2 separate regions of the Homo sapiens genome follow, and region 2 is linked to region 1. A link means that fine-mapping ties the variant in region 1 to the plasma level of a protein whose gene starts in the linked region. Region 1 holds a variant in brackets. A gene starts in the other region. All regions are shown on one strand. Distances are between the middles of the regions.

Evidence for each region. PIP is the chance, under the fine-mapping model, that this variant and not a neighbour inherited with it causes the effect. Protein levels are from antibody-based Olink assays in UK Biobank. Linkage for the fine-mapping came from a reference panel and not from the study's own genotypes, which makes the PIPs less certain.
Region 2: TINAGL1 starts here. The variant in region 1 is fine-mapped to the plasma level of the TINAGL1 protein (UK Biobank, PIP above 0.99).

The regions. Positions count from the first base shown.
Region 1 is chr1:21,560,887-21,562,955 of GRCh38, forward strand. It overlaps ALPL (alkaline phosphatase, biomineralization associated), which reads left to right. Exons shown (of 12, transcript NM_000478.6): 4 at 211-326. Among named protein-coding and RNA genes, the nearest start is that of LINC02596, 25 kb to the right of the region's middle. The variant G/A (reference allele first, on the strand shown) is at 767.
Region 2 is chr1:31,575,208-31,578,215 of GRCh38, forward strand. TINAGL1 (tubulointerstitial nephritis antigen like 1) reads left to right here and starts at 1,308. Exons shown (of 12, transcript NM_022164.3): 1 at 1,308-1,388; 2 at 1,927-2,251. The coding sequence starts at 1,942. It overlaps LOC105378626 (a long non-coding RNA gene), which reads right to left and starts at 2,690. Exons shown (of 6, transcript NR_188671.1): 1 at 2,637-2,690; 2 at 203-463. RefSeq lists an enhancer at 1,119-1,839.

The DNA of each region.
Region 1 (2,069 bases):
TGGATTCAAGAGGCCTGCTCTGCCAGACAGCCCCCTGAGGATCTGGGGGTGAAGGGAGAGAGGGGCTGCTCACTGACATTTACAGAGCCATGCCCAGTGCCAACTGCCCGAGCCTGCCTTGGTACCGAACTAGAGAGCTTCTGGGTACCCAAGCAGGCTGATTGGAGAGGCAGGAGCACGAGAGACTGAGGCCCCCACTCCCCACTGCAGGGATGGGTGTCTCCACAGTGACGGCTGCCCGCATCCTCAAGGGTCAGCTCCACCACAACCCTGGGGAGGAGACCAGGCTGGAGATGGACAAGTTCCCCTTCGTGGCCCTCTCCAAGGTGAGCCCCATCCCCAAGCCCAGTTCAGGTCTGTATATCCAGTATCCAGGTCGAGCATCTGAACATGACAGCAGCCAGAGGTCCCCTGACCCCCTGAGCCCCCTCCATGCCCAAGCCCACTCCCCACCTGGAGCAGCCACTGCCCTGACTTCTGACACCATAGCATCACTGTACCTGCTTGCGGGTGTGTGTTTAGAGAGAGGGTCTTGCTCTGTTGCCCAGGCTGCAGTGCAGTGGTGCAGTCATAGCTCACTGCAGCCTCCAACTCCTGGGCTCAAGCCATCCTCCCACGTTAGCCTCCCGAGTAGCTGGGACTACAGGTGTGTACCACCACATATGGATAATTAGAGACCCCCCCAAGGTCTCTAATTCTTGGGCTTAAGCGATCCTACAGCCTTGGCCTCCCAGTCTTGGGATTACAGGCGTGAGCCACCATGCAC[G/A]GCCTATATATGCCTTTTTTTTTTTTTTTTTTTTGAGACAGTCTTACTCTGTCTTCCAGGCTGGAGTACAGTAGCATGACATCAGCTCACTGCAACCTCTGCCTCCCGAGTTCAAGTGATTCTTCTGCCTCAGCCTCCCAAGTAGCTGGGATTACAGGCATGCGCCACCATGCCCAGCTAATTTTTTTATTTTTAGTAGAGACAAGGTTTCACCCTGTTGGCCAGGCTGGTCTCGAACTCCTGACCCCAGGTGATCTGCCCACCTTGGCCTCCCAAAGTGCTAGGATTACAGGCATGAGCCACCGTGCCTGGCCTGTATACACTTTTGCATGAAGTTCCAGTTCATTCATTCTTTCCCGAGGCAGTTCGTGAAGTTAATTAGACTATAGGCATACCTCAGCTATACTTCGGGTTTGGTTCCAGGCCACTGTAATAAAGCAAATATTGCAATGAAGCAAGTCACACATTTTTTGGTTTCCCAGTGCATATAAAAGTTATGTTTGCACCCTACAGTAGTCTTTTAAGTGTGGGATAGCATTATGTCTAAAAAAATGTATATACCTTAATTTAAAAATATGCTATTGCTAAAAAACGCTAATGAAGTGAGCTCATGTTTTTGGAAAAAATGATGCTGATAGACTTGCTTGACACAGGGTTGCCACAGATCTTCAATTTGTAACAAACACAGTGTCTGTGGAGTACACTAAAATGAGGTGTGCCTGTACTGACCTAGGTTGTTCAAGGCAGTGTGCACTGCCGGGTAGCTATTGCTATTGGTGGTGGTGATAGTGGTGTTATGTAATAACCTCCAGACCCTGGGTCAGGCCCCAGGCTCACTTCTGGGGGAGTAGTGGGGACTATGGTGCCTTCTGTGCCTTCAAGGTGCTCTCAGGCTGGTGGGGAAGGGAGACAGGCAAATAGTTTTGGGGTCTCTGCTAAACATCCGGATGTAGGGCAACCCTGTGATGGTGGCCGCAGGGCAGGTGGCAGAGAAGTCAGCGCTGGTCTTGGCCCCACCCTTCCCTTCCCCAGTCCCCTTCCCCCTCACTTTCACTACCCTATCCCCAGACCCCCCACTCCTTCAAGAAGGCCCCTCCCTCTCCCTTCTCCAGGACTCCCCTGCTCCCCAACCCCTTGCTGGCTCCTGCAGCCCCAGGCCCGGAGAGAGGCCTCCGCTGACCCCACCTGAGCCCCAATCTTCCGCCGGACACTTCTCTGTACTTTGGAGAGCTAAGGTCCTGCCCCAGTGCTGCCAGGGTGCAGGGAATGATGGCAGGAAGCAGGCAGCTAGGTAGTCCTGTGG
Region 2 (3,008 bases), 10 Mb after region 1:
CAGGCAGGGAGCCTGTGTTCTGGCTGCACGACCTCAGGCAAGTGCATTCTTCTGAGCCTCAGTTTCCCACCTAGGCTTTGTCCTCCCAGGTCCCTGCAGGGAGCAGATGGGCAGCTCCTGGGTGTGTTAGTGCCAGTGCTGGGGCCCCCGGATATTATCCCTCCACCCCCACCACCAGGGCAGGACCCCCTTGGTGACTCACCACCCAGTGGTCCATGGCAGGGGTAACCCAGCCACAGGTGCCGGTGATCCTCGGCTCTCTCCCTTCCCCCAGGGTCTGGCCAGCTGAGGATGCCCCTTGGTTTGGGGGAGGTTTGCAGGGAGGTCAGTGGGAGGGCAAAGGGAGTCCCTGATGCCTTCCCCGGGGCCACATGTGAGGCTCAGGCCTGGGCCTGGGAGGGTTTGTCCAGGTGTAGTCTCTTTTATCCTCTTTGCTGGTAGAGACCTCTGGCCTGGGCCCAACCTGTTGAAGAGAGGGCGTTGCACAATAGGGAGGTAAAAGGTGACGGCAGACCTGGCGGGACAGAAGCCCCATTGTTTGGGTCCCAGGCCAGCCTGGGCAAAGAAAGGTTTATGCCTGCGGCAGGAAGGAGGGCCTCTGCAGGGGGTGCCAGCTGGTAGGGCCCTTGCCTTTGGACCCTTGGAGGGGGACAGGTGCCAAGCAGGATGCCCTTGGGTTTGCTAGAGAGGGCAGTGCTCGTCTAGGGGCCCAAGCAGGCAAGGGAAGGCAGACTCAACAAGGGATCAAAGGGTGCAGAGGCCACCCCCACACCCTGCCCACCTCCCAGGGATGAGCCGCCCAGGGCACCTAAGGATCATACTCCTGGAATTCCAATCATTCCTAGGAGCTGGGGTGGCTAGGGGGGCGGCACCCAAGCCTAGGGGGCACAGTGGAGAGGGGTGTGCATGGCTATTTTTATTACCGAGGGGTCAGGAGAGGCTTACAGAATTTTGCCTCACATGCCCTCCCCATCATTTCCCAAACTTGTGTCCATAACCCAGAGCTCGGCTGCCCATATCCCCCCTTCTCCACCAGAGCCCCTCAGCTCCACAGGGATGCCCACTGTGAAGTCCTTCCCAGTGTGAAACCGCAATCCTTCCTGCTTGGGGTTCCCCTAAGGGAACGGCTTCCGCCACAGGAGACCCAGCCAGGACAATCGTGTGCTTGTCGTTTCTCCACCCTGCAAGCCCATGAGTTGTGGGGTAGTTACTCCAGGTACAAGCCAGGCGCCCCTCCCTTCCGCCACTGCTGGGGCGGTGCAGAGGGCGGGCGGTACAAAAAGCGCCCCGCCCCGCGCTCCTCTCTTGACTTTGAGCGTCCGGCGGTCGCAGAGCCAGGAGGCGGAGGCGCGCGGGCCAGCCTGGGCCCCAGCCCACACCTTCACCAGGTAGGGACGCTCCCCTGCTCAGAGGGCGGAAGGTGTAGACAGAGAAGAAACAGGGGGAGGGGGCAGGTAGAGGAACCAAGACAGATGGCAGAGAGAGGGACAGTGGAGGGGGACAGAGGGACACAGGAACAGAAGAGAGGTGTACCCAAAAGACCGGGGGAGACAGGAAAGCACAAAGTCAAGGACCCAGGTCAGGGATGGAGGCTGCTGGAGGGCAGAGAGACCTAGGACAGGAGAGAAGACCTTGGGTCCACAGGATGAGTGTTGGGTGGGAGCACCAAGAATGCCACCACCCTCATTTCCTTGTCCTTGAAGGTCCCTGCCTAGGTCAGGGAGGGGCTCCGTTTCTGCCCAGTCCCCATCCCCCTATAGCCAGGGCCCACACACTGGGGCTCCTCTGCCCGTGTCCTGCCTGGGGACTCAGGAATCGGGATCTCCCTCCCTGCTGGGCCCTCTTGAACTCACAGCTCCAGGAAACTGGGAGACTCATCCCTGGTGTTCCAGGGAGTCTCTGCTGCCCACCATCTCTGCCCCCCAGGGCCCAGGAGCCACCATGTGGCGATGTCCACTGGGGCTACTGCTGTTGCTGCCGCTGGCTGGCCACTTGGCTCTGGGTGCCCAGCAGGGTCGTGGGCGCCGGGAGCTAGCACCGGGTCTGCACCTGCGGGGCATCCGGGACGCGGGAGGCCGGTACTGCCAGGAGCAGGACCTGTGCTGCCGCGGCCGTGCCGACGACTGTGCCCTGCCCTACCTGGGCGCCATCTGTTACTGTGACCTCTTCTGCAACCGCACGGTCTCCGACTGCTGCCCTGACTTCTGGGACTTCTGCCTCGGCGTGCCACCCCCTTTTCCCCCGATCCAAGGTGGGCACTAAGATGGCCAGGAGGGTGGGTCACTTTGTCCACCTCAGACTCAGCAAGGCTCAAGAGCAAAGCTGATGGATGCACTGACATTTCCAGGGGAAGCTCTGTAGAATCTGGGACTCTTCCCTGCCCCTCTGGGAACTTTACTCTCCAGCAAGACTGAAGAAGCTCCTTGGTTAGAATTCTAATTTGGCCCAGGGAAAGGGCAACCTCCCACATTTTCTCCCAATCCTGTCTCTTTTCCAGACACGGAAGGTGCTGGCCGCACCTGCTGACTCACTCTTGGGCTGATAAGGCACATATGGGTTGGTGAGGGTCATCTTAGCCATTTTTCTGCCTTTGCTGAGGATTCTAGGATCCTGTGCCCCGAGATGGCTGCTCATACCTGGGAGATGGGTCAAATCTTTTCCTGCTTTCAGCCTCACCATCATCCTTTTCCATGCACTTGCCCCTGTCCAATAGGAGAATCACTTGCGTTCCTTCCCACAGTTCCATGGGGCTTGGGCCGGCAGACTGCATACCTGAGCTGTCATCTCAAGAGTGCTGTGTTATCTTAGGACGGTTGCTTACCTTCTCTGGGCCTTGGCTTCCCCATGCTCCTCCCACTCCCCATCTCCAAGCCCTAACTTATTTAAATGGAAAAGGATCCCAGGAATGTTGTGGCTGGCATCCAAGTAAAGTAAGAGGAATCCAGGTTGGAATCATTGAAGAACTTCCCAAACAGCAGTTGGTGTGTGACCCTGCAGGATTTGTCTTC